Linked DNA regions of Homo sapiens: all the other regions are linked to region 5. Evidence: fine-mapped expression QTL. A gene starts in region 5. Each other region holds a variant in brackets. All regions are shown on one strand. Distances are from middle to middle.

Region 1 (4,088 bases), 130 kb before region 5:
CTATGTTCCAATTCACTGATTTTTTTTCTCTATCTTCTCCATTCTGCTGTTGAGCCCATCCCCTGAGCTTTTTATTTCAGTTATTTTATTTCTTAGTTCTAAAATTTTCATTTGCTTCTCCTCTATTTCTTTTACTTCTTTCCTGACATTTTTTTTTTTTGCTGGGAATTTATATTTTTGTATTCATTTCAAGTATGTTTATAATGCTTGTCAAAGCATTTTTAATGTGACTACTTTGAAATCTTTGTCGAAAACATTTTAACAGCTTTCTCATCTTGGTGTTGGCATTTATTGTTTATCTTTAAAAATTCAATTAGAGATATTTCCAGTTCTTGGTAGGATGAGTAAATGTTAAAGTTAAAATCTGGACATTTTATATTATCAGACTCTGGATTTTATTCCAATATTTTGGTTTAGCTGGCAAAATATTGGCTGGCTTTCCCTGATGTCACTGTGTCAGGGAAAGGTTGCAGAGTGCTCTTTTGTTAATTTCAAGTAGAGATAGAAGTCTAGGTTCCCCACTCAGTCTTTATGAATTCTTGGTAGGGTGGCTTCTCATTACTGCTGAGCAGAGGGAGTTCCAGCTCTCCATGTTGTCTCTGCTGACACTGTGGTAAGGGTAGCCTCATTACTGCTGGGTGATGATTAAAGTCCCACCTCTCTACCTGACTGATACCACCTTATGGGGAGAAATGCCTTGTTACTGCCAGGTGGGACTGGAAGAAGTTCATGTTCTCTACAAGCTGTCCACTGGTACCATGAGGGAGGAAGGTGGGTTGTTATTGGCCAGCTGGGATGAAAGTCCTAGTTGCCTTCTTGGCCTTCTCTAATACCACCCTGGAAGAGGTTTGGAGTGCCTCGATAGAGCCTTGCAAGGGTGGAAATCTAGGCTCTCACTTGCCCTTGCCTGTGTGGGTGAGGATGGGCTCACAGGTTTTTGTTGTTGTTGTTGTTTGTTTATTTTTGTGAGGTTTAGCTAGGGTAGAGTGGTTATTGTCTAAATTATCTAAAAGTTGTTTTGTCTTTCTATGCGGCTCTTTTCTTAGTCCTTTGGCTTGAGGAGAGTAAGCTTTTGTTGGGGGTGTTTTTTGGTCTGTGTTTGTTGGCATTTCTAGGTTACCTACTTCTTTAGTTCCAAGTCTGGAGTATATAAGGCAGAAAGAAAACCCATGGAACTCACCATATTTTTCTATGGGTATCACTGTCTCTAGCTGTTCTACTGTCTTCTCTTCACCTTTCAAAGTGATCTTACGTTTGCTTTATATATACTATCCAGCATTTTCACTTGTACTTAGAGGAATGAGAAAAGCATATCTGTTTCATCTTCCTGGAAACAGGAGTCTTCTTTATTTCTTCAATTGTTCATTTTTAAAAAAAATCTTTTTATTATATTTTAAGTTCTGGGATACAAATGCAGAACGTGCAGGTTTGTTACATAGGTATACGCGTGCCACGGTGGTTGGCTGCACCCATCAACGCATCATCTACATTAGATATTTCTCCTATTGCTATCCCTCCCCAGCCCCCCACCCCATGACAGGCCCCAGTGTGTGATGTTTCCCTCCCTGTGTCCATGTGTTCTCATCGTTCAACTCCCACTTATGAGTGAGAACATGTGGTGTTTGGTTTTCTGTTCCTGTGTTAGTTTGGAAGCAGGAGTCTTGACACATTTTTGAGAAAAGAAAAAACTATCCACTCATTATCTATTCCTGACATTTTTTTTGTTTTTATATATTCCTTTTGATTTCTTGTCAACATGTATACAATATTGTACAAAATAGTAATCAGTCTATGTACCTTTTTATTTCCTGTTTTTTCATTTATTATATTTTAAGATATAATAAACATTTCCCTATGTGTTTATATAGACTTCATAATTACTATTTTAATAGCCACTAATACTTACGCTGTTTTCAGGCCTATTTTTAAAAACTTTTTTTCTATTGGTTATTATTGCTACTTCTTTTTTCT[A/G]TTAGAACCAACACTGCAAAATTACATATAGCTTTTTATTTGGCCTCTTTTGAACTTCTTCCTTAGGATAAATTTCTAGGATAAATGTATCCTTTTTTAGGATACATTATTTTTAAGTCAAAGAATATTTTTAAATGAATTTTGTGATATACTGTTTGGCACTCTCTACAAGGAACATAGAAATTTATGCTCAGTGTTCAGTGTAGTAATTTCTTCACAATGTCATATCTTTTGGATTTTACATTAGTTCTCTGTGGTTGTGGTCCAGTCTCATCCTTACTTGAAACCCTGAAGGACTCAACTTGCAATACTGAGTTACATCACGTGCATTTCAGCCAGTGGCCTTCCAATCAGTGGCACCACTGGAAAATAAACTTTAGATAGAACTGTTAGTTGGCCTTCTATGGATAATTACTTAGGACTCCTCCTCCTCTCTCTTTTCTGAGATGAATTTTATTGGAGAAACTTCTTAACCTGAGAAACAGAAACTCACCCCAGGCATTACTTCTATAAGGTGAGTATATCTGCATTCAAACTTCCCAGAAAACTGAAAAAAACCAATGTTTCTTTCTGGATCAGATAACTTGAGGTCCCTTCCTAATGGGGACCTAAGCCAATCTGTAGCCTCCACAAGTGAGTACTTCGGAACTAGAAAGGTTGGACATACTCTAGTGTCATATTAGAAAGCTGGAGAATCAATTTGTGGCCTTTTGGATGGACACTGGCTGCTCATTAAAATCCTCTTTTTGCATCTACTTTCTCACCATACTTTGTAGCCTGATTCTAACTACTAAATCCAGCAATCTTTTCTTATACTTCTCATCTTTTTGAGCATTCTAGCCACTGTTCAAATGAATTAACTTTATGAAGTAGTATCAACTAATAGCCCCATTTTATAGATGAAAATTGGAAGATTTGAATCCAGAAATTCTGGCTCCAAAGCCCACACTCTTAACCACTGTGCTGCTTTTGTGTTGATGATTAGCTGCCCCTGTCTCTTCTTTGAAGCATTCTTTAGCCTGGCTTCTATGTGCATGCATGTCTTGGTCCTTTTCCATCTCTTTGTTTTCTTCTTCCAACACCTACAGGTAAACATTCACCAAGATTCCTTCTTTAGCTTTCTCTTCCCTTTGCCTTTATCATTATCTGTGACTGTTGTAAGGAATGACATATTTATCTCCAGTAATATCCTGTCAACTCCAAGTATACGTCACTTTTCTTCCTGTTGGCTGAACATCTGTATTTCCACAAAACCCATCATTTTCAATTTCAACTGCATCATCTAACCATAAAACATGATTTTACAGGGTACATTTTTTATTGACATATAACATAAATGCAGACAAATGTACCAAATAATAAGTGTACATTTGAGGAATTTTCATAAAGCGAACACACTCTTGTAGCCAGCACCAAGATAAAAAAAATAGAACATCACCAGCACTTCAGACACACCTCTTGTGCTTTTTCCAGTCACTATCCACTTCACCCCAATAGTAAGCACTATCATAATTTTTAACATTATGAATTAGTTTTTCCTGTATTTGAACTTTATATAAATGTAGTTGAACTTTTGTGCTCTTTGGTGACTATCTTTTTTCATTCAACATTATGTTTGTAATGTTCCATGTTTTTGCATGTAGAGGTAGTTTGTTCACTGTATAACAGCAGTCCCCAACCTTTTTGACACCAGGGGCCACTTTCGTGGAAGACAATTTTTCCATGGACAGTGGGTTGGGGGAGGTGATGGTTTAGGAACAAAATTATTCCACCTGAGATCATCAGGCATTAGATTCTCATAAGGAGCATGCAACCTAGATCCATTGCATGTGCAGTTCACAATAGGGTTTGTGCTCCTACGAGAATCTAATGCCATCACTGATCTGACAGGAGGCGAAGTTCAGGTGGTAATGTTTGCTCACCCACTGCTCACCTCCTGCTGTGCAGCCTGGTTCCTAATAGGCTACAAACTGGTACTGGTCTGTGTGGCCTGGGGTTTGGGGACCCCTGCTGTGTAATATTCCATTATGGGAACATACCACTATTTATAAAGTCCATTTTATTGTTGATGGATATTTTGGTTGGTTTGCCATGTTGGGATGATATGAATAATGCTG
Region 2 (4,088 bases), 99 kb before region 5:
CACACATATCACAAGCAGACATCCAATTATAAATGCACTTATTTGTTTTCTGTCTCCCCAGCTAGAATGCGAGCTCTCTGCTGGAACACAGTAGGTACTCAACAAATATTTATTGAATGCAGTTGCTTTGTTCATAACTGAGCAGAACTCTCCTTCTCACGAATGCGTTCTTTCTTTAGGTATAGTAATCTCGTCAGTCAGGGTCCAGTCAAATCTTGCTATCCTAGGAACACATTTGTTATTTAAAGTGGTTTCCTGTATTTCTTCTCTGATTCATTCTTAAAAGGCAATCTAATTTCTTGAGGTTCCAAGTTCATAGCACAGGGGTCATCCCATGGTAACCCCTGCATACTCACAACAGGAACATGTAATATACTCATGAACATGCAATTTGACACAAGAATGCACATTGGATGGAGCTGAGGGAATTAGTAAGGAAAATGGTAAACTAAGAGATAGGAATCTGCCCATCAAAGAAGAGTGATGAGGTGATTTCCTTGACCCAGATGAGATTGCACAAACACCATCTGTGTTTATTGCTTCACTTTCCCTCCCATTGACACCATGTCATTCATTTGCAGGGCCTGCTGAAGAATTCAGCAGTGGAATCTTGCCCACCCACTGCACTTTCTGTTGTTTAGAATGGTTTAATAAAGAACTGACTGACTTCTCAGATGGCGAATCTCAGAGGGCGCCTATCCTACCAGCTTTAAGCCTCACCTCACCCTCCAAAACAAGGCCCTAGGCTCTGTGGCCTGTGTTAGCCTCTCAGAGCCTGCTCTGGCCAGCACTGGCGGTGGTACCCTGGGATACTGACCAGGCCTCGGCATTCTTGTCTTATTCTGGGGCAAGAGAAAGTAAAGAGATAATGGGTTGCCCTTCATAATTTTAGTTAGACAGCCAGGAGTGGTGAGGCACACCTGCAGTTCCAGATACTTGGCTGAGGTGAGAGGATCTCATGAGCCCAGAGTTTGAATTCAGCCCGGGGAACATAGCAAGACTCCATCTCTAAAAAAATTAATAATTTTACTTAAATTTTGCTTAGAATCTTCACACTTCTACTAAAGCTGCCTCTCTTCCTCCCAGAGATGGGAAGTCAGAGAATTATTCTACATGACCATTTTGTAAAATTTTGACCTACATTTCTCCATTTCATTCCTGAATGGGAGTAGATAAAAACTCAGAAGTCATCTCTATTCCGAGCTGAGTAAGAAGAAAAGAAACACCTGGGATGATTTTCTTCTGCCACCCTCCCTTGCGTATTTGCCCCTCTATTGCTTGCACGTGATGCCTCAGCTTCTCTTTCTAGCTCCATCTCCCCTCTTTAGCAACCAAACTACATTTCCGATGGCTGGATGGACATTTTCACTGGATCTACTCATGGCATTTCAAAGTCAATATAACTAAAACCATATTAATAATCTTTTAATCGATGCCAAGTCTTTCTTCTGGTTTCTTTATTTAGGTTAGTAACAGTATCATTCTTCTTTTTCACGCAGCCACCAAATCACAGACCTCCGTAGGCTCCTGTTGGTGAAGTCTTGCCTATCCTACCTCTAAGAATTTGATCCCTCTTTTCCATTACTACCTCCAAATTCCTAATTCAGACCCCGGTCACCTACCACCCATTCTAGCTTAAGAAGCTGTCAAGCATAGTGATTAAGGGCAGGTACCTGTGTCTAGATTAAAACACTGCCTCTTCTGCTTTAGCTGTGTGAATTTGAGCAAGTTGTTTAATCACCCTAAGCCTCAATTTTATCATCTGTAAAGTGGGCTAATAACGGTTCTTGCTATCAGAATTAAATCAGATTATGTATATGAAGTAGCATCTGCAAAGCACTCAGTACTGGTAGTGATTAGTACCACCTGTTCTCTCATGACTCCATTTCATTTGACTTACCACCGCTAGGTTTACCTTCAACAAGGCAGCCCTGATCACGTTTTAAAAATCCTCAGTGCCCCCACCCAGTATCAACCTAACACATAACAGTCCCATTTTGGCATTCCAAATTTTCCATAAGTCTTATGACCTCCTACTGCCTTAAATTTACCCTCTGTTCCAGTCAAATGGACCACTTCCCTCTTCCCCACATCCTCTCCACAGTATAGCCTCTGTGCGTTTGCTTACATTATATTTTCTGTTTGATTCACCCTCCCTTTCCTTCAAGGTCTTACTTGAATGGCTGCTCTCTGATGACTAAATGTCTTTTTCTCTTCTTTTATAGTCTCTGCACATAATTGCACCTGTCTAACATGATGACCTGCTTTCTTCCTGGTCC[G/T]GCATGTTCATCTTACCTCTCTAGCTGGAGGAACCTTCATTCACCTGGCTTCAAGTCACCACATGTCAGCATTAAGGCTGAAACGTTCAAGCAGTCATTTCCCCTCCTGCCAACAAGATACTAAAAAACCAATTTGAGCAAATTCTCCACTAAGCCACTTGGCTAGATCAATGTTTGATACACAAGGTCTTGCTCAAACAACAGCCAAAGCTGGAAAAAAATTGTGGCTATGAGACACGGAAAGGATCTAATTATTCTTCCTTAAGCAATGTTCTTAACCGCAGCCTGTTTCCCAGCTTCTGAGCACTCTGCTTGAGTGATTAGCAATGCAAGATTGCACATTGGCCTTACCTCATACAGGATGAGGTAGTTCAATCCAAATTTCTCAAATAGTTTTTAACTTTTTTCTTCCCAGTATGTCTGTAAGAGCTGGAAAATCATTCAATAGTTTTTAAAGAAAATTTGTGCCTTTAGCAGCAACTGGATGCAAACATCAGTTCTCATTTAAAAAAAAAATTTCAGCTTTATTGGGGCATAACTGACAAATAGAAATTGCATGTATTTAAGGTATATGACTTGATGTTTTGATATATGTATACATTGGAAAATGATCACCACAATCAAACTAGTTGACTTACCCATCACCTCACATAGCTGCCTCTTTTCTTTTGTGGTGAGAACACTTAAGATCTACCCTTGTAGCAAATTTCAAGTCTACAATACGGTATTGTTAACTGTCGTTACTATGCTGTATATTAGGTCTCCAGAACTAACTCCTCTTGCATGGCTGAAGCTTTGTACCCTTTGACCAACATCTCCTCATTTCCTGTATACCCCAGCCCTGACAACCACCATTCTACTCTCTGCTTCTAGGAGAGTAACTATTTTAGATTCCACATATACAAAAGATCAGGCAGTATTTGTCTTGCTGTGACTGGTTTATCTCACTTAGCATAATGTTCTCCAGGTTTGTCCATGTTGTCACAAATGGAAGGATTTCCGTTTTCAAATATCAGTTCTCTTCAAACCGTTTGAGTACCCTGAGAAAGTTTTTGGTTTCCAGTGGCTGCTCCTTTCAGAAACTATGCTACTTTCTAAAATCTCATTTAGGAGTAGCAATACTTTACTCCAGACACTGGCCCCAGACCAGTGTGGGAGGAAAGCCGTGAATCCTTAAAGAAAGTGATGCTTTAAAAGTCTGAGGTTAAATTCCATTTTGAAAAGTTTTAGCACAACTTCCCTTCTCCCCAGAGCTGAACCTCACTTCGTGCTATTTTTTACTCAGTTCAAGAGTGTTTTTTTTTTTTAAATAACTTGTCTCCTTATGAATTTTAAATAAGTTAATTAATAGGATATTGCTAGTTTAAATCATAATATAAATTCAGAAAATATTTTATAAATGGACCTATGCCATTTGGACTTAAAAAAATTATAAAGGCTTGAAACATTTGTGTGCATAATCCTGTTTTTATAATTTCAGTATTTTGCATTGAAATATACCTCACACTACACAGCTGACCTGGCAGTTCTATGAATGGCATTCAAAAAAGTCAGTCTTGTTTCATGAATTTATCTGTCAGCAAAATGCCTCTTTTATTATTGTTTTAAAATATATTTATCGGATTCACTTTTGCCTTTTCTTATGACGTTTGAAGATATTTGCATTTGCTTTTCTCTTTCTCCCTTTTTTTTTTTTTTTTTTTGAGACAAGTTCTCGCTCTGTCACCCAGGCTGGAGTGCAGTGGCGCCATCTCAGCTCATTGCAACCTCCGGCTCCTGGGTTCAAGAGATTCTCTGGGACTTCAGGTG
Region 3 (4,088 bases), 31 kb before region 5:
TTGACATACGGTATTTTCAACTTATGATGGGCTTATAGGAACAAAATCCCATTATCAGTTGAGGAGCATCTGTTTGTGGAGAAATAATCACAATCCTGGAACAACTCATCTGACCAAATTTTCTAATGTTTTATATCTCAGATTACAGTAGAAACATGATTATTGTAGAAAAAAATCAGGAAATACAGAAAAATATAAAGAAAAAAATAATCCCATCACAGAAAGAAACATTAAACATTTTGCATCTGGCACTCTGGTCTTTGAACTTGGCAGATTTAGTGCTCTTTATTTTGTTTTTCAATATTGGAATCACACTCAATATACTGTTTTATTTACGTTGACAATGCACTGCTAACCTACTTTAAGTTATGAACATATCGTGGACATTTCCCCACATTTCCACGATTTTTATTGTTGGTATAATATTCATGTTAGGATGTGCCCAACCAGATACTTTAACTGCAATCAAGATAAACCCATTTACTCAGAATCTTGGCTCACAGCGTAAGTAAAAATGACTGGATCTCTAGTTGGGCCCTATAATGCGAAAAGTCTCACTACACCAGGACGGTATGTTACTGGAGAATGGAGCAGGCGCAGAACAGGGCAGCCTGCTTTCTGTCTCTCCTGTGTTTCTGGGAAGAGAAGCTATTTTCTCCCCTCCTCCTCTGCTGTGATTAGATTTATTTTCTAATCTCTCTCTGTTCATTTGTGGTTTATTGTTTGCCAGAAGTCCCCATGTCTGTTGTTTTGTCATTCTGAAGCGGCTTCGTTGTCTGGGGTAAATACCCAGGGTTCGTTACCTGGCGCCAAGAAAATTTAGGACAGGGACACAAAGGAGGCCTTTAGGAGCGCAGGTTTAATAGGCAGAAGAAAGAGAAAGGAGAACAGCTTTCTCTCTAGCGAGAGAGCGGGGCTTCTGAAAGGGAAAGACTTGCTGGGGCGGAATTCTCCAAATTTTTAGGCAGGTTTGAAGAGGCGGTGTCTGATTTACATAGGGCCCACAGATCAGTTCGATTAGGTGTGATGTTTACATAGCAGGAGGAAGGCTGGCTACCTCACCCTCATCTTACTATGCAAAAGAGCTTTCCACTTGACCCGCGCCATGTTGTCTGTTCCTTAATGTACACGTGGCTGGCACTGAGAAAAGGAAGATGGGCTGGGCGCGGTGGCTCACACCTGTAATCTCAGCACTTTGGGAGGCCGAAGCAGGCGGATCACGAGGTCAGGAGTTCAAGACCAGCCTGACCAACATGGTGAAGCCCCGTCTCTACTAAAATACAAAATTAACTGGGCACGGTGGTGCATTCCTGTAATCCCAGCTACTTGGGAGGCTGAGGCAGGAGAATCGCTTGAACCTGGGAGGTGGAGGTTGCAATGAGCCTCCACCATGCCATTGCACTCCAGCCTGGGCGACAGAGCGAGACTCCGTCTCAAACAACAGCAACAACAACAAAAACAAACTAACTAACCAAAAAAAAAAAAAAAAAAAAAAAAAAAAGGAAGAGAAGATGGAACCGCCATTTTGAACATGCCTAGTCCCAGGTAGTATTCCTCTGCTGGCATCTATGTCTGTAGCTTGATTTCACAGGCTGCTCTTTGTTAGAAAGGAAAAGTATTTGGGGCTGGTTTTCATTAAAAGGAAAACCTTACCGAGGACTTCTGTACCCTCACTATCTGCCGAAGTAATTTATTTTTAACTTGTGTATTCTCTGAGTGGTTCAGAGAATCTTAATAAAAGAGGAGGAGGTAGGGTGACCCTCAGCACTTAGGAAAATACGGACACCTCATTCTGGAGTGCCTGAAGTCAGCCTGCAGGAACTCCCTGTGTCTGAGAGGCAGCCCTCGCTCTTCCTGAGCTAGTGGCAGAGGAAAGCGGCTGGAACAGCAGGGTCCTGTAGTGTGGGTGGGAGCTTTAACTCACGCTCCTTCCTATCTGTTCCCACTTAAAACCATCTGGGCTGTGAGGAGGTAATTTTCTAGCCCTTCAACTTGTGTGACCACACACATTCTTTAAAGAGATGTTTACTAGCTTCACAGGATTAAAAACAAATTCTCCTTTAAAAAGTTCAAAACAAACAAACAAAAAAAAAACCTCTCAGTTTTCTCTGTGTTCCCTCTTCTGACTCTCCATAAGAAAGGTATTTGTGGCCTCTCTGAACCATGACTCAGATTTTCACTTGAGTTTTGACTTTTCTCTTTTCCCTACAACTTCCTGTTGCTGCTGTGAAATGCTGTTGCCTGAGAGGGCTTTTCTTTTTTCCCCTGATTTAACTCCAAGGTGATTT[A/C]TGGGTCCCTGTCTCGATCTATGTCTCAGTAGAGATGAGGGGAAAAAGAGACGGCCAAGACCTTCACGGCCTCCTCATTCTCCTGACCTTAGAGTCCAGCTCACACAGAGGCTGGCTAGGAGTGGAAGTGCCACTTCTCCATGAGGGCGGTCCCCATTCCTGACAGTGCCAACTGAGGATTGTACATATTTTAGGCAGAAAAGCACAGGACCTTTGTTTTTTAGAATTCCACTCTGATTTTTCTTCTTATTTTTTCCCTGTGCTAGTGACCCAGGAATAAAGCTAGGGAAAGAGAAAATGTGATCATTCCGGCCTGGGGAAGGTGAAAGGACAGGATAGCAACAAATAACAGAGAATGATGCATAACAGCATATTGATAGTCTTCACAGTTTGCAGAGCATTTTCATATCCATTATCTCATTAGCTCCTCACAGCCGCCTGCGGGGAAATGCACCACAGGCATTGTGCTTATCCTGGTCTGCAGACTAGGAGCTGCAGGTCTGCGATGGATGCTGTGAGATGTCACCCAGACCCCTCGTCAGGGCGGAGAAACTCACTCCCCAGCTGTCCAGTGCCCACTGCAAACAGCCACAATTGAGTCCCTCACTGGGAATTCCCCCGCTGAAGGAAGCTGCCTTTGCCAAGGTTATCTCCCTCCCTGGGCCCTGCCTTGATTCCAGGCAACTCTACGGGGCCATCCCAGCTCCAGAACACCCTGTAGGATCAGCTGAGAACCCTAGGATCAGCTGAGAACCTTGTAGCAGCTGCATCAGAGGTCAGCTTCTCTCTCTGCCCAATTTTCCTTTCCTCCCTCTCTCCCTCCGGGGGTTGCTCTTGAGAGCTCTCCCTGTTAAACTTCTTGCATGCAAGTCCCCATCTGAAAGTCTTCCAGGGAACCTCACTGTATTGGCCCATTCAGGCTGCCATAACAAAGTACAACAGACTGGTGGCTTAAACGATATAAATTCATTGTCTCACAATTCTGGAGGCCAGAAGTCAGAGATCACAATGTGCTCTGGGACTCTCTTCTTGAGTTGCAGATGGCTGTTTTCTTTGTGTCTTCACGTGGTCTTTGCTCTGTGCACATCTGTGTTTTCAATCTTCTTATAAGGATACCAGTCATATTAGATTACAGCCCTCTCTAACAACCTCATTTTAACTTAATTACCTCTTTAAAGACTCCATATCCAAATACAATTATGTTCTGAGGTACCCGGGGTTCGAGGTATGAGTTTTGGGTGGCCACAATTTAGTTCATGATACCTACCTAACACAATGTTGAAGAGATTGAGTGACATGCCCCAAATAAAGCAGTGTCCCCTTATTTAACAACTTATAAAATATCTTACAGCCCTGTGGTTCTCCCTGATCTTCTGCCACTTATACCTTATGTAATGGAATGGGAAGGTATCACTGCCAGGAAATCAAGAATTAGGATCCGGAGTTTCTGTGCTCTGTTCGCTACTACACGTGATCTACCACAATTGGGAATCTAACTCATTCTGTTCTGCTAAATTGTTGCCAGTGCTCACAAACGCACATTGTAGTGGACAGTATAATAATATTATTGTTAACTGATGTTATTAATGACCACAAAATGACAAAATTAAGGACACACAAAAAAATCACCTGGAGTATACTCTTGGTGAAGCAATAACACAGGGTACAAAAGAATACAGAATACACAGATCTGGGTCTCTGGGATAAAGACTAGATCCTAAAAATTGTAACTGATCAGAAAAATACAGAGCTGTATGGTCCCAAGTGGGAAATATTTCATACAATGGTGATCTGACAAGC
Region 4 (4,088 bases), 74 kb before region 5:
TCTGATACTGACACACACGTGGCCTCTGGAAATCTTGAAGTTAAACATCTGCAGGGCATCTACCTAGTGTAATTTGGATAGTTCCTTAGAGCTGCATGTCTTAATGTCTTCTTCCACTTTTTCCTTATCTTGGTTTGAAAGGCTAGGAAAGGATTCACTCCTTTGGGCTTCAAAACATCCTTGTTATATTGAACATGTGTTATAAATAATCAGGACTGGAAACACAGAAGTCAGGGTGAGCTGAGGAGGGGAGAAGAGCAGATAGCACTTCCTCATCTGTGCATTAACACATGATGAGTGGCAAATTGTATTTTCCAAAGATGGCCAGTGTCTCCTATCGTCTGTGCTCTTCTACGTTGTGACCTTAGTTCCCCCTCATCAAGACGTGGAGTCCACTTGAATCTGAGTGGGCTTGTAATTGTTCAAACAGTAGAGTAGGGAAAGTGATACTGCTTGACTTCTGAGGCTCAATCATAAAAAGTGACGCAGCTTCCTCTTAGTTTTCTAGAACACTAGTTCTTGGAGCCTTGAGTCTGAATACCTAGGCCACCATGTTGTGAAAACACCAACCCATGTATAGAGGCCATGGGTAGGTAATGAGTCACCTATCCTCGTCTTTGAGTCCTATTAGCATAGGAACCAGACCTGTGAGGAAGGGAGCCTTGAGATGATATTTGCTCCCGGCCATCAAGTAACCATTGGCCTTTGCTTCTTTCCAGCTAAGGTCCAAGACATTGTGGAACAGAGACAAGCCATTTCTACTGTGTCCTTATTGAATACCTGGCCCACAGTATCCCTGACCATAACAAAATGGTAAGGGTTTAAGTGGTAAAGTCGTTACATGTTTTGAAGGTGGTTAATTCTACGGTAAGTGACCAGACAAATGGTTCTAAATTCACTTGTGTTGCTAGTGTCATAAGACAAAATTACAACAAATTTGGTTTAAAGATCTTAATTGCTGCCTGTGTTTTTGAGGTCTTAGCCATAAAATCTTTGCCTAGATCAATGTCCTGAAGCATTTCTCCTGTGTTTTCCTCTAGTAGTGTTATAGTTTCAGATCTTACATTTACGTCTTTAATCCATGTTGTGTTGATTTTTGTATATGGTGAGAAATAGGGATCCAATTTCATTCTTCCGGATATGGATATCCAGTTTTTCCAACACCGTATATTGAAGAGAGTATTTTTTCCCCAGTGTATGTTCTTGGCACCTTTGTTGAAAATAGTTTGCTATAAATACGTGGATTTATTTCTGGGTTCTCTATTCTGTTTCACTGGTCTATATGTCTTTTTATACTAAATATCATGCCATTTTGGTTACTATATGTAACCAAATATAGTATATTTTGAAGTCAGATTGTGTAATGCCTACCACTTTGTTCTTTCTACTCAGTATTGCTTGGCTATTTGGGGTGTTTTGTAGTTCCATATAAACTTCAGGATTATTTTTCTATTTCTGTGAAGAATGTTATTGGTATTTTGATAAGAGATTGAATCTGTAGATTACTTTGGGTAGTATGGTCATTTTAACAATATTAATTCTTCCAATTCATGAGCATGGAACGTCTATTTGTTTGTGTCTTCTTCAATTTCTTTCATCGGAAAGAATTTATTAAATTTGATTAAATTTATTCCTAGACAATTAATTTTTTATAGCTATTTTAAATGGGATTACTTTCTTGATTTCTTCTTCAGCAAGTTAATTATTGGTATATAGAAATGCTATTGATTATGTATGTTGATTTTGTATTCTGCAACCTTGTTAAATTCATTTATCAGTATAGCCATTATAGAAAACACTATGGAAGTTTCTCAAAAAATTAAAAATAGAACTACCATGTGATCCAGAAATCCCACTGCTGGGTATTTATCCAAAGGAAAAAAAATCAATATATCAAAGGGAGACCTGCACTCCCATGTTTATTGCAGCACTATTCACAATAGCCAAGATACAGTATCAATCTAAGTGTCCATCAACAGATGAATGGATAAAGCAAATGTGATACACACACACACACACACACACACACACACACACAATGGAATACTATTAAGCC[G/A]TAAAAAAGAATGAAATTCTATCATTTGCAGGAACATGTATGGAATTGAAGGGCATCTTGTTAAGTAAAATCAGCCAGGCACCGAAAGACAAATATTGCATATTCTTACTCATATGTGGGAGCTAAAAAGATGGATCTCATGGAGGTAGAGAAAAGAATGGTAGCTACTAGAGGCTATGAAGGGTGTGTGGGATGAAGAGAGGTTGGTTAATAGGTACAGACATATAGTTAGACGGAATAAGCGCTAGTATTCAGCCTCAAAGTAGGGTGACTATAGTTAACAAAAACATATTGAGTATCTCAAAATAGCCAGAAGAGAAAATTTGAAATGTTCCTAGCTCAAAGAAATGATACATGTTCAAGGCGATGGATATCCTAAATACCCTGATTTGATCATTACACATTCTATGGCTGTGTCAAGATATCACAGATACCCCATAAATATGTGTAATTATTATGTATCAAAAACTTTATATAAAAAACATTAATTTGCTGTATTTTTGATTCTACAATTGGGCAGCACTTTATTCCATAAAATAGAATGAGTGTTCTGATGAGCCAAGAAGAGGAGGTTGGTTTTACAGACAGAAAAGGGCTGTGGAAAGCAGAAAAAAACAAACAAAAAAAATGTGGATTGGTCATTTCAAAGTTTCTTTTCATGTAAAGGTTAAAGCAGAGGGGACTTTCTTGTCCTGCTGGCACTGGATCTAGGTCAGTGTTGGAGACGATGTCTGGGACTCAGGGCCTTCGCAGATCACAGAGGCTGGTCTTGCACAACCTCTAAGAGGCCAGGCCAGGCCATGGCTTACCTAAGAGCTCAGCCCAGGGAAGCCCTAGGTCCTTTCCTGGCATCTTAGAGGGAACCATGTCTTACTGGCTCAGGCTAGACTTGCACATTAATCCACTGAGTTGACTTTGGATCTTACAGGCTCAAAGGGTGGTCTTTGGGAGCAGGAAGTGATCAGGACCCTGGTCAGATTCATATATCTGCAACTGAGCCCACTCAAAGAAATAAATAGAAAAATTACATATTTTTGGTTATTTGCCTTAATGTCACAGATTACCATTAGGCCAAAGATCTTCTGAGGTATATGCGTACAAGGTGATTTTTTAGTGTTTTTTTTTTTAAATTCTCTCTTTTTCTATAAATTTTAATGATGACTTGAGTATAAAACAAGATGATCCACTCTGCAGCACCAAAGGTGGGCAAGAGAAGAGATCAGAATCTGGTATGAGACTGAAAATCACTGTGGCAACCAGCTTCAGTGGGGCAGCTGGGGTTGGCTCTGAAGAAAGTCTGTTCCATTTGTATAGCAGACAGGAGCCCATGGGGTTCCCATCAGCTAGCACTGGGAGTGGACTTCAGAGGCTGCACGGGCTGCTGTTGGACTGGTCTAGGGGACGGGGGAGGAGGGAAGATGCCTGTGAGGCAAGGCAGAAGGGCTTCTAGACCTCAGACTGAGGGTCAGGGAAGACCTATCTTCCTAAAGGTGTTGGGGAATAGTTAGGCTAGCAGATCAGAACAGGTCAAAAGAATAAGCACTATGGTAGAGGCTATTGTGGGTTTGGGGAAGGGGAGAGAGAATAAAGGGAGGAGAGATCTGCAGCTTGTGTGCCTACACTGTTTCTCAGAAGCCTAGGCCTGGGAGCTGGTTAGCAGCAAGAACACACAATAGGGAAAGCCCCGTAATTGTCCTGGCTCCTGGCACTGGGAGACTGACTTAGTTCTCATGGCGAGGAGCTCTCTGAGAGTATCACCCGGGCAGAAATGTAAGGAGCACACCTGGTTTTGGCCAGTCATTGCCATGTTTGCAATAACATGGCTGTGGGCCAATATCATTAGGCAACTTTGTGACTTGGTCATTGAGCAATGATCGAGGTCCTATTTGAAAGCTAAGGTCAAGCTTATGAAGCAATGCCAGCTTGTAACATCGTGCAGGTTTATTTAACACAGATGAAACCAAGACATATCTTTACCATCCAGGAGTAAATTATCCCAGGCACAGGGAAAGATGAAGTAGGAATGTTTCTT
Region 5 (4,083 bases):
AGGGTCAGCTATGAGGCACACTCCCCTGGCCTCCCTCATAAGCAATTTAATTGCAAAGGGTTAGCATACTATTTCTTCTCTGCTATTCTCAGAATTCTCAATTATGAAAACAAAAACAATAATTAAAAAGTTCTTCCAGCTGATTTTTTTTTTTTTTTTTTTTTTGAGACAGAGTCTCACTTAAACTCTGCTGCCCAGGCTGTAGTGCAGTGGTGCAATCTCTGCTCACTGCAACCTCTGCCTCCCACGTTCAACCAATTCTGCTGCCTTCCCCCCTGATCCCCGAGTAGCTGGGATTACAGGTGTGCACCACCACGTCCGGCTAACTTTTGTATTTTTAGTAGATGGGGTTTCGCCATGTTGGCCAGGCTGGTCTCGAACTCCTGACCTCAAGTGATCCGCCCGCTTAAGCCTCCCAAAGTGCTGGGATTACAGGCGTGAGCCACTGCGCCTAGCCCCACGTGCATTTTTTTTTTTAAGGGAGGCAGGAAAGAAGGCATTTGGGCCTCTTATCTGCAATTTTCTTCCGTGTAAACTTATGTGAAGGATCTGGAGTGGGACTTGGTGGCTTCAAGCCCTGGCTCCACTTCTTGATGGCTGCGCGACCTGGGTTAAGTCACGCAACCTCTCTGAACCCTAGTTTATTCATCTGTAAACAGGTCAATAATAGCACGAGATTCGCAGCGCGAGTGGAGCTCAAAGTGCAGGGTTGTCCCTGGTGAACCTATCACTTTTATATTTATCCTTTGATGAAGCCAGTACAATTCCTACCTGGTTAACCAGATACATCCCACCTCTTCCCTCGAGTTCGCCCTTCCCCCCGCCTCGTGAAGTCCTTGTTCTCTTAGCTGTCTTGAAAATCCTATGCATCAGCATGTAGGAAAGGGCGCGCCAGGCGGGGGAAGCCACCCCCGCCCAAGCGCCTCCGGCTTCCCTTATAAAGGGAGGGCCCCCTTCGCGACCGCAAGCGCGCCCAGGAAGACCACAGAGCCGCCGGTGCGCAGCGAGGTGGCGATACGCGCCCGGGCTCGGCCTGCGGGTGGTGGCCCAAGCGTCCGCCTCGCTGGCCTGGCAGGCGCGACTGTGCGTGCGCAGCCGAGGGTGGTGGCGGCCGGCACCCCACGCCAAGGGTGGTGGTGGCCGGCACCCCACCCTCGGCCGCCGCCTCCGCGTGTCAGGTGCCGTGAGAAGCGCGGGAGGAGCGGCCGCAGGCAGCGCCCAGGGATATGACTGGAGCCGACTTTCCAGAAGCGGCGCACGCAAAGCCCAGCTCCGCACGCAAAGGGGAGGCGACAGCAGAAACTTCAACCCGATAAAGTTCGCCGGAGCGCGGAGATTCGCCTCCTCCTGCCACTCTCCGCCCCGCTCGGGTCCCGCCCCGCTAGCTCCCCCAGGCCCCCCCAGTCGCCCCAGCTTGGCTCCCCGCCCTGCGCCAACGGCTTCCATCGCAGCCTGGGCGGCCCCGCGCCCACCAGCGGGCGGCGCCACCTGGAGTGGCCTCTACGCGGGAAATCTCAGGGCCAGCTGCGCCCCAGGAGCCTTTGTGTGCCCAAGCACTGTCGGGGCCCCGGGGCGGGGGAGCGGCTACTTTTAGGGATTCCTGATCTCGCCGCAAGAACTGGAAAAAATTTAGCATGCCAAAGAGCCTCCACTGAGGTGGCAATTTGTTTGCGAGAACCTAAGATAAAATTTAAACAACCAACCAGGGGCGCTGTGAGGCAAACCGCTGCCACTACACTGGCTTTCCGGGAAGCAAGCTCAAGTCGCGGAGAGGGAAGGGAGGTCGTGCGCTCGGGGCGGGGCGCGCTCCCAAGTCGAGCGCAGCGGCCGGGGCAGGTTGTACCGAGCGTGGTTCTGGGGACACCGTGCGGCCTCGATTGGAGGTGGCTGTGATGAAGCGCGGTTACCGCACAATGGAAACGTGGGCACCTCCGCTCCCATGAAAGCCTGCTGGTAGAGCTCCGAGGCCGGCCGGTGCGCCTGGACGGGAGTCCGGGTCAAAGCGGCCTGGTGTGCGGCGCGCCCCGCCCCCCGCAGGCCCCGCCCTGCCAGGTCGCGCTGCCCTCCTTCTACCCAGTCCTTAAAACCCGGAGGAGCGGGATGGCGCGCTTTGACTCTGGAGTGGGAGTGGGAGCGAGCGCTTCTGCGACTCCAGTTGTGAGAGCCGCAAGGGCATGGGAATTGACGCCACTCACCGACCCCCAGTCTCAATCTCAACGCTGTGAGGAAACCTCGACTTTGCCAGGTCCCCAAGGGCAGCGGGGCTCGGCGAGCGAGGCACCCTTCTCCGTCCCCATCCCAATCCAAGCGCTCCTGGCACTGACGACGCCAAGAGACTCGAGTGGGAGTTAAAGCTTCCAGTGAGGGCAGCAGGTGTCCAGGCCGGGCCTGCGGGTTCCTGTTGACGTCTTGCCCTAGGCAAAGGTCCCAGTTCCTTCTCGGAGCCGGCTGTCCCGCGCCACTGGAAACCGCACCTCCCCGCAGGTCAGTCTGTCTGCCGAGGCGCTGCCCGGCGACCTCTTCAGATGGATTATTACAGGTAGCGGGTGGCGTGGTAGGTACTTTAAAGGAAATCAAGCGCCACCGCCTCGATGCCCGCAGCGTTGTCCCCAGATTGCAGGAACCGTTACGCGCCTTGCGGGGAGGGGAAGGGTTTGGCGCTGGGTTACAGCGAGGTGGAAACACGCCCCTTCTCTTCTCCAAGGGAGAGTGGGTTGGGGATGGGAAGGGGCGTCTTCGGCCATTTCTCCAGAGAGTCAGCTCCGACCTCTCCACCCAACGGCACTCAGTCCCCAGAGGCTGGGGTAGGGGCGTGGGGCGCCCGCTCCTGTCTCTGCACCCCTGAGTGTCACGCCTTCTCCTCTCTGTCCCCAGCATGGGCACCAGCCTCAGCCCGAACGACCCTTGGCCGCTAAACCCGCTGTCCATCCAGCAGACCACGCTCCTGCTACTCCTGTCGGTGCTGGCCACTGTGCATGTGGGCCAGCGGCTGCTGAGGCAACGGAGGCGGCAGCTCCGGTCCGCGCCCCCGGGCCCGTTTGCGTGGCCACTGATCGGAAACGCGGCGGCGGTGGGCCAGGCGGCTCACCTCTCGTTCGCTCGCCTGGCGCGGCGCTACGGCGACGTTTTCCAGATCCGCCTGGGCAGCTGCCCCATAGTGGTGCTGAATGGCGAGCGCGCCATCCACCAGGCCCTGGTGCAGCAGGGCTCGGCCTTCGCCGACCGGCCGGCCTTCGCCTCCTTCCGTGTGGTGTCCGGCGGCCGCAGCATGGCTTTCGGCCACTACTCGGAGCACTGGAAGGTGCAGCGGCGCGCAGCCCACAGCATGATGCGCAACTTCTTCACGCGCCAGCCGCGCAGCCGCCAAGTCCTCGAGGGCCACGTGCTGAGCGAGGCGCGCGAGCTGGTGGCGCTGCTGGTGCGCGGCAGCGCGGACGGCGCCTTCCTCGACCCGAGGCCGCTGACCGTCGTGGCCGTGGCCAACGTCATGAGTGCCGTGTGTTTCGGCTGCCGCTACAGCCACGACGACCCCGAGTTCCGTGAGCTGCTCAGCCACAACGAAGAGTTCGGGCGCACGGTGGGCGCGGGCAGCCTGGTGGACGTGATGCCCTGGCTGCAGTACTTCCCCAACCCGGTGCGCACCGTTTTCCGCGAATTCGAGCAGCTCAACCGCAACTTCAGCAACTTCATCCTGGACAAGTTCTTGAGGCACTGCGAAAGCCTTCGGCCCGGGGCCGCCCCCCGCGACATGATGGACGCCTTTATCCTCTCTGCGGAAAAGAAGGCGGCCGGGGACTCGCACGGTGGTGGCGCGCGGCTGGATTTGGAGAACGTACCGGCCACTATCACTGACATCTTCGGCGCCAGCCAGGACACCCTGTCCACCGCGCTGCAGTGGCTGCTCCTCCTCTTCACCAGGTAAAGCCTCTGGGAGGCGTGGGCCAGGTCTTTTCTCCTCTGAAAAAGGCGGAGTAGAGACAGAATATGCTGAGTTTGCAAGCAGGGCCCCGGGTTTGGGGTTTCGCTCCAGGTCCCCACCCCTCAAAACCAAGATCGCGTCGGTAAAGGGACTCACAGTGAGGG
Region 6 (4,088 bases), 53 kb before region 5:
GAGGTTGGTGAAGACTGGTAAAGTAGAGAAGAGAGACATTTTAACAAAATATTCATATTTATCTGGTCTCTAACATGAAAGCTGCATATTTTGTGGTATATTAATTAAGTCATTTTTATAAGTTATAAATGATACTAGTACAGTAAGTCCTCACTTAATGTCATCGATAGGTTCTTGGAATCTGTAACTTTAAGCAAAACAACATGCAGCAGGTTCATAAATAATGTCACTTCCTTTAACGTTTTGTTATAACGTTGATGAGAAAAAAACGCTTTTGTTACATGTCATTTTGCTTAAAGCTATAGTTTCCAAGAAACTGTCGATGACATTAAGTGAGAACTTACTGTATAATAACATTATGTTAGAGTTTAGTGGGCTCCCAAAAGATCTTCTCTTACCAGGTAGACAGTTCTCTCTTTTAGAGATAAAAGAATTGAGCCTCACAGAGGCCGTATGAGCAGTCAGAGTCCCACTATGTTCCCACCTACCATTCACCACTAAATCCTTAGTCTGGCTGCAGAAAACAGAAAAGATTTATTTCCTCAAAAGTCAACTTCTTTAGACTACATTGACCCTAATAGAATTCAGAAAGCAACTCTTAGACTCAAATTTTTCTGCTTATTGCCACCACCACACTCCCCCAGTCATATGACAAGAGTCGTTTGCGGTAGGAAGCAAAACCAGAAATGCACTTGAGCAGTCTTTCTATGTCCTTCCTTGCCTCACCCCCATTGGGGGCCTGCATGATGGTGAGTGGCCACATAAACAGTCCCTACGTCTCCAGGAGTTCCCTTGGCCATGGCTGCTGGAATGACTCATCCTTCTCCATCTGTAGCCTAGGCTTTCCCCTTCTCCTTAATTTCCATGAGGGAGCAGTCTTAGATCAGAGCCTCCCCAAGGGGACAGGACCACAGCCCTCCCTAAAAGGTCCTGGATCTGGTATAAATCTAACCATGGGAGAAAACAGAATTCAGTTACAGACAACATCAAGGGCAAACTTGAAGGGGAGCAAAAATCACAATATGGGTGTGGGAACTGGACCACAGAGTTACAGTGGTCATTTCCTCCCCACCACATCTTGTGAACTTTACCTTGCCCACTGCCCCAAGGGGCAACCATGTGGCTCATGGCCCTGGCCACCAATAACTGAATTGGGAGTAGACCCACTTTAAACATGACCCACTTTAACCAATCAGACATCTTTATCTAGAACTTGGAGTTGGGACACAGAAAGCCTGAGGGTGTTTTTTTATCTGTGAGTGCTAGACTCACAAGATTCTGTGGGCTCAAGGACTGAGTTAGACAGTCATTTAAGGTCATGTGGTAACAGAGTATGCTTGACGAAGGGGGAGGATGGAGCAGAGACAAAGATAACTGAGAGAAAGGGAGGAGGAAGGGCAGCTCCAGACTCTAGCCCTTCAGTGATCCAGGTGCAATTCTTCAAACTGGGTTTCACAGTATTCCGTTATCACTGTGCAAGTAATCCCCATTTACTTAAGTTACTCTGAGTGGGTTTCTGGCCCTAGCAACTGAGTGCTCCCCCACCATAAGATGAAATGGCTAGGCTGGAGCTGGGAGGCAGAGGCAGTGAGTGAGGAAGCTAGACGGATTTTTCCAGAGAAAGTAAGTCCTAGAGTCCAAGCATATGCACGCTATCCACACGTTCCAAATTTTAGGAGACAGCCCTGTTTCAAATGTGCCAGCTTGCCCAAATTTCTGTTTAGGCAATTGTGGTATATCTGTTTATATATATAATTTTAGCATTGGGAAGGCCCTCCTAAGTAAGACACAAACCTGGAAACCACAAAGAAAAGAAAAGATTGACAGATTAGACTACCTAGCCCTAAATTTTAAATTGCCTTTGACAAAAGCCACCATCAGCAAAATTAAAAGTGAAGGGGCAGCTTGGGATCTAAGTGACAGCTGGAGAGCCCCTGCACACTACAGACTCCCTCCTGCTGCAGATCAGACTTCTGGACAAGTCCAGCCCTGGCTTTGTGGCTGTCATGACTACTGAAAATGTCGTAACTGTTGGCAGCAAGAACATGACCTCTTGCTGTCCCAAAATGAGGAAATGAAAGGGAAAAAAGAGGAAATGGGATGAAATGAAAAATGGATGCAAACAA[C/T]AGAGAGTGAGCAAGAAACATTGAGAAAGATGAAAAAAATGAGCTGTTTATCTCTCCTCTGCTTCTGGGCCCTCTCCTTTGTGCTACCCTAGTGATGTGCTCTATTGGTCCATTCTTACGTTGCCATAAAGAACTGGGTAATTTATAAAGAAAAGATGGTTAGTCAGCTCATGGTTCCTGTGGGCTGTACAGGCTTCTGCTTCTGGGGGAGGCCTCAGGAAACTTACAATCGTGGCACAAGGTGAAGGGGAAACAGGCCATTAGCAGCAGGAGAGGGGCAAAGGAGATGCTACACACTTTCAAACAAGCAGATTTCCTAAGAAATTGGGGGAATGGCGCTAAACCATTAAAAACCACCCCTGTGATCCAATCACCTCCCACCAAACCCTCCCTCCAGCACTCGGGATCACAGTTCAACATGAGATTTGGGTAGGGACACAAAGCCCCACCATACCATTCCACCCTTGGCCCCTCCCAAATCTCATATCCTCTCACATTGTAAAATATAACCATCCCTTCTCAACAGTCCCCCAAAGTCTTAACTCATTCCAGAATTAACTCAAAAGTCCAAGTCCAAAGTCTAATCGGAGACAAGGCAAGTCCCTTCCACCTATGAGCCTGTAAAATCAAAAACAAGTTAGCTACTTCCAAGATACAATGGGAGTACAGGCATTGGGTAAATACTCCATTTCCAGAAAGGAGAACTCAGCCACAACACAGGGGCTACAGGCCCCATGCAAGTCCGAAACCCAGCAGGACGGTCATTAAATCTTAAAGCTCCAAAATAATCTTGACTCTGTGTCTCACATCCAGGCCATGCTGATGGAGGGGGTGGGCTTCCAAGGCCTTGGGCAGCTCTGCAGGGTACATCCCCTGTGGCTGCTTTCATGGACTGATGTGAGTGCCTGTGGATTTTCCAGGTACACAGTGCAAGCTGGGGTCTGGAGGAGGATGACCTTCTTTTCAGAGCTCCACTAGGCAGTGCCCCAGTGGGGACTCTGTGTGGGGGCTCCAACCCCACATTTCCCCTTTGCACTGCCCTACTAGATATTCTCCATGAAGGCTCTGCCCCTGCAGGAGACTCCCGCCTGGACATCCAGGCCTTTCCATACATCCTCTGAAATCTAGGTGGAGGTTCCCAAGCCTCAACTCTCATCCTCTTTGTACTTGCAGGCTTAACACCACATGGAAGCCACCAAGGCTTGTGGCTTGCACTCTCTGGAGCAGCAGTCTGAGAAGTATCTGGGGCCCTTTTGGCCACAGCTGTAGCTGGAGCAAGTGGGATGCAGGGTGCCATGCCCCAAGGCTGCACAAAGCAGCAGGGCCCTGGGCCTGGCCCCATGAAACCATTTTTCCCTCCTAGGCCTCCAGGCCTGTGATGGGAGGGGCTGCCCCAAAGGTCTCTGGAATGCCTCATAGGCATTTTCCCCATTGTCTTGACTGCTAATATTTGGCTCCTCTTTACTTATGCAAATTTCTGTATTGGGCTTGAATTTCTCCCCAGAAAATGGGTTTTTCTTTTCTACCACATGGCTAGGCTGCAAATTTTCCTATCTATCTTTTATGCTTTGCCTCCCTTTTCAGGTCATTTCTTTGTTTATGCAGATGAGTTAGGCTTTTGGAAGCAGCCAGGCCACATCTTGAGCACTTTGATGCTTAGAAATTTCTTCTGCCAGATACCCTAAATCATCTCTCAAGGTCAAAGTTCAACAGATCCCTAGAGCAGGAGCACAATGCCACCAGTCTCTTTGCTAAAGCATAGCAAGAGTGACCTTTACTCCAGTTCTCAATAAGTTCCTCATCTCCATCTGAGACCTCATCAGCCTGGCCATCTCTGCCCATATCACTATGAGCATTTTGGTCAAAACCATTAAACAAGTCTCTAGGAAATTCCAAACATTTCCTCATCTTCCTGTCTTCTTCTGAGCTTTCCAAACTGTTCCACCCTCTGCCCATTATCCA

Evidence for each region. PIP is the estimated chance that this variant, and not a neighbour inherited with it, causes the effect.
Region 1: its variant is fine-mapped to the expression of CYP1B1 in whole blood (INTERVAL, PIP 0.95).
Region 2: its variant is fine-mapped to the expression of CYP1B1 in whole blood (TOPMed, PIP above 0.99).
Region 3: its variant is fine-mapped to the expression of CYP1B1 in whole blood (INTERVAL, PIP 0.96).
Region 4: its variant is fine-mapped to the expression of CYP1B1 in whole blood (TOPMed, PIP above 0.99).
Region 6: its variant is fine-mapped to the expression of CYP1B1 in whole blood (TOPMed, PIP above 0.99).

What each region holds. Positions count from the first base shown.
Region 1 is chr2:38,207,410-38,211,497 of GRCh38, reverse strand. The region is part of intron 1 of LOC102723739 (a long non-coding RNA gene); the gene reads left to right. Among named protein-coding and RNA genes, the nearest start is that of CYP1B1-AS1, 78 kb to the right of the region's middle. The variant A/G (reference allele first, on the strand shown) is at 1,972.
Region 2 is chr2:38,173,226-38,177,313 of GRCh38, reverse strand. The region is part of intron 2 of CYP1B1-AS1 (CYP1B1 antisense RNA 1); the gene reads right to left. Among named protein-coding and RNA genes, the nearest start is that of CYP1B1-AS1, 44 kb to the right of the region's middle. The variant G/T (reference allele first, on the strand shown) is at 2,280.
Region 3 is chr2:38,104,796-38,108,883 of GRCh38, reverse strand. No RefSeq gene overlaps it. Among named protein-coding and RNA genes, the nearest start is that of CYP1B1-AS1, 24 kb to the left of the region's middle. RefSeq lists enhancers at 510-1,249, 1,250-1,989. The variant A/C (reference allele first, on the strand shown) is at 2,289.
Region 4 is chr2:38,148,474-38,152,561 of GRCh38, reverse strand. All of the region lies in intron 2 of CYP1B1-AS1 (CYP1B1 antisense RNA 1), which reads right to left. LOC107985871 (a long non-coding RNA gene) reads left to right here and starts at 2,396. Exons shown (of 4, transcript XR_007086290.1): 1 at 2,396-4,088. The variant G/A (reference allele first, on the strand shown) is at 2,057.
Region 5 is chr2:38,074,181-38,078,263 of GRCh38, reverse strand. It overlaps CYP1B1 (cytochrome P450 family 1 subfamily B member 1), which reads left to right and starts at 2,113. Exons shown (of 3, transcript NM_000104.4): 1 at 2,113-2,484; 2 at 2,875-3,918. The coding sequence starts at 2,876. RefSeq lists silencers at 998-1,117, 2,028-2,117, cis regulatory regions at 1,161-1,190, 2,111-2,118, an enhancer at 1,092-1,290 and a promoter at 757-2,132.
Region 6 is chr2:38,126,846-38,130,933 of GRCh38, reverse strand. All of the region lies in intron 2 of LOC107985871 (a long non-coding RNA gene), which reads left to right. Among named protein-coding and RNA genes, the nearest start is that of CYP1B1-AS1, 2.2 kb to the left of the region's middle. The variant C/T (reference allele first, on the strand shown) is at 2,127.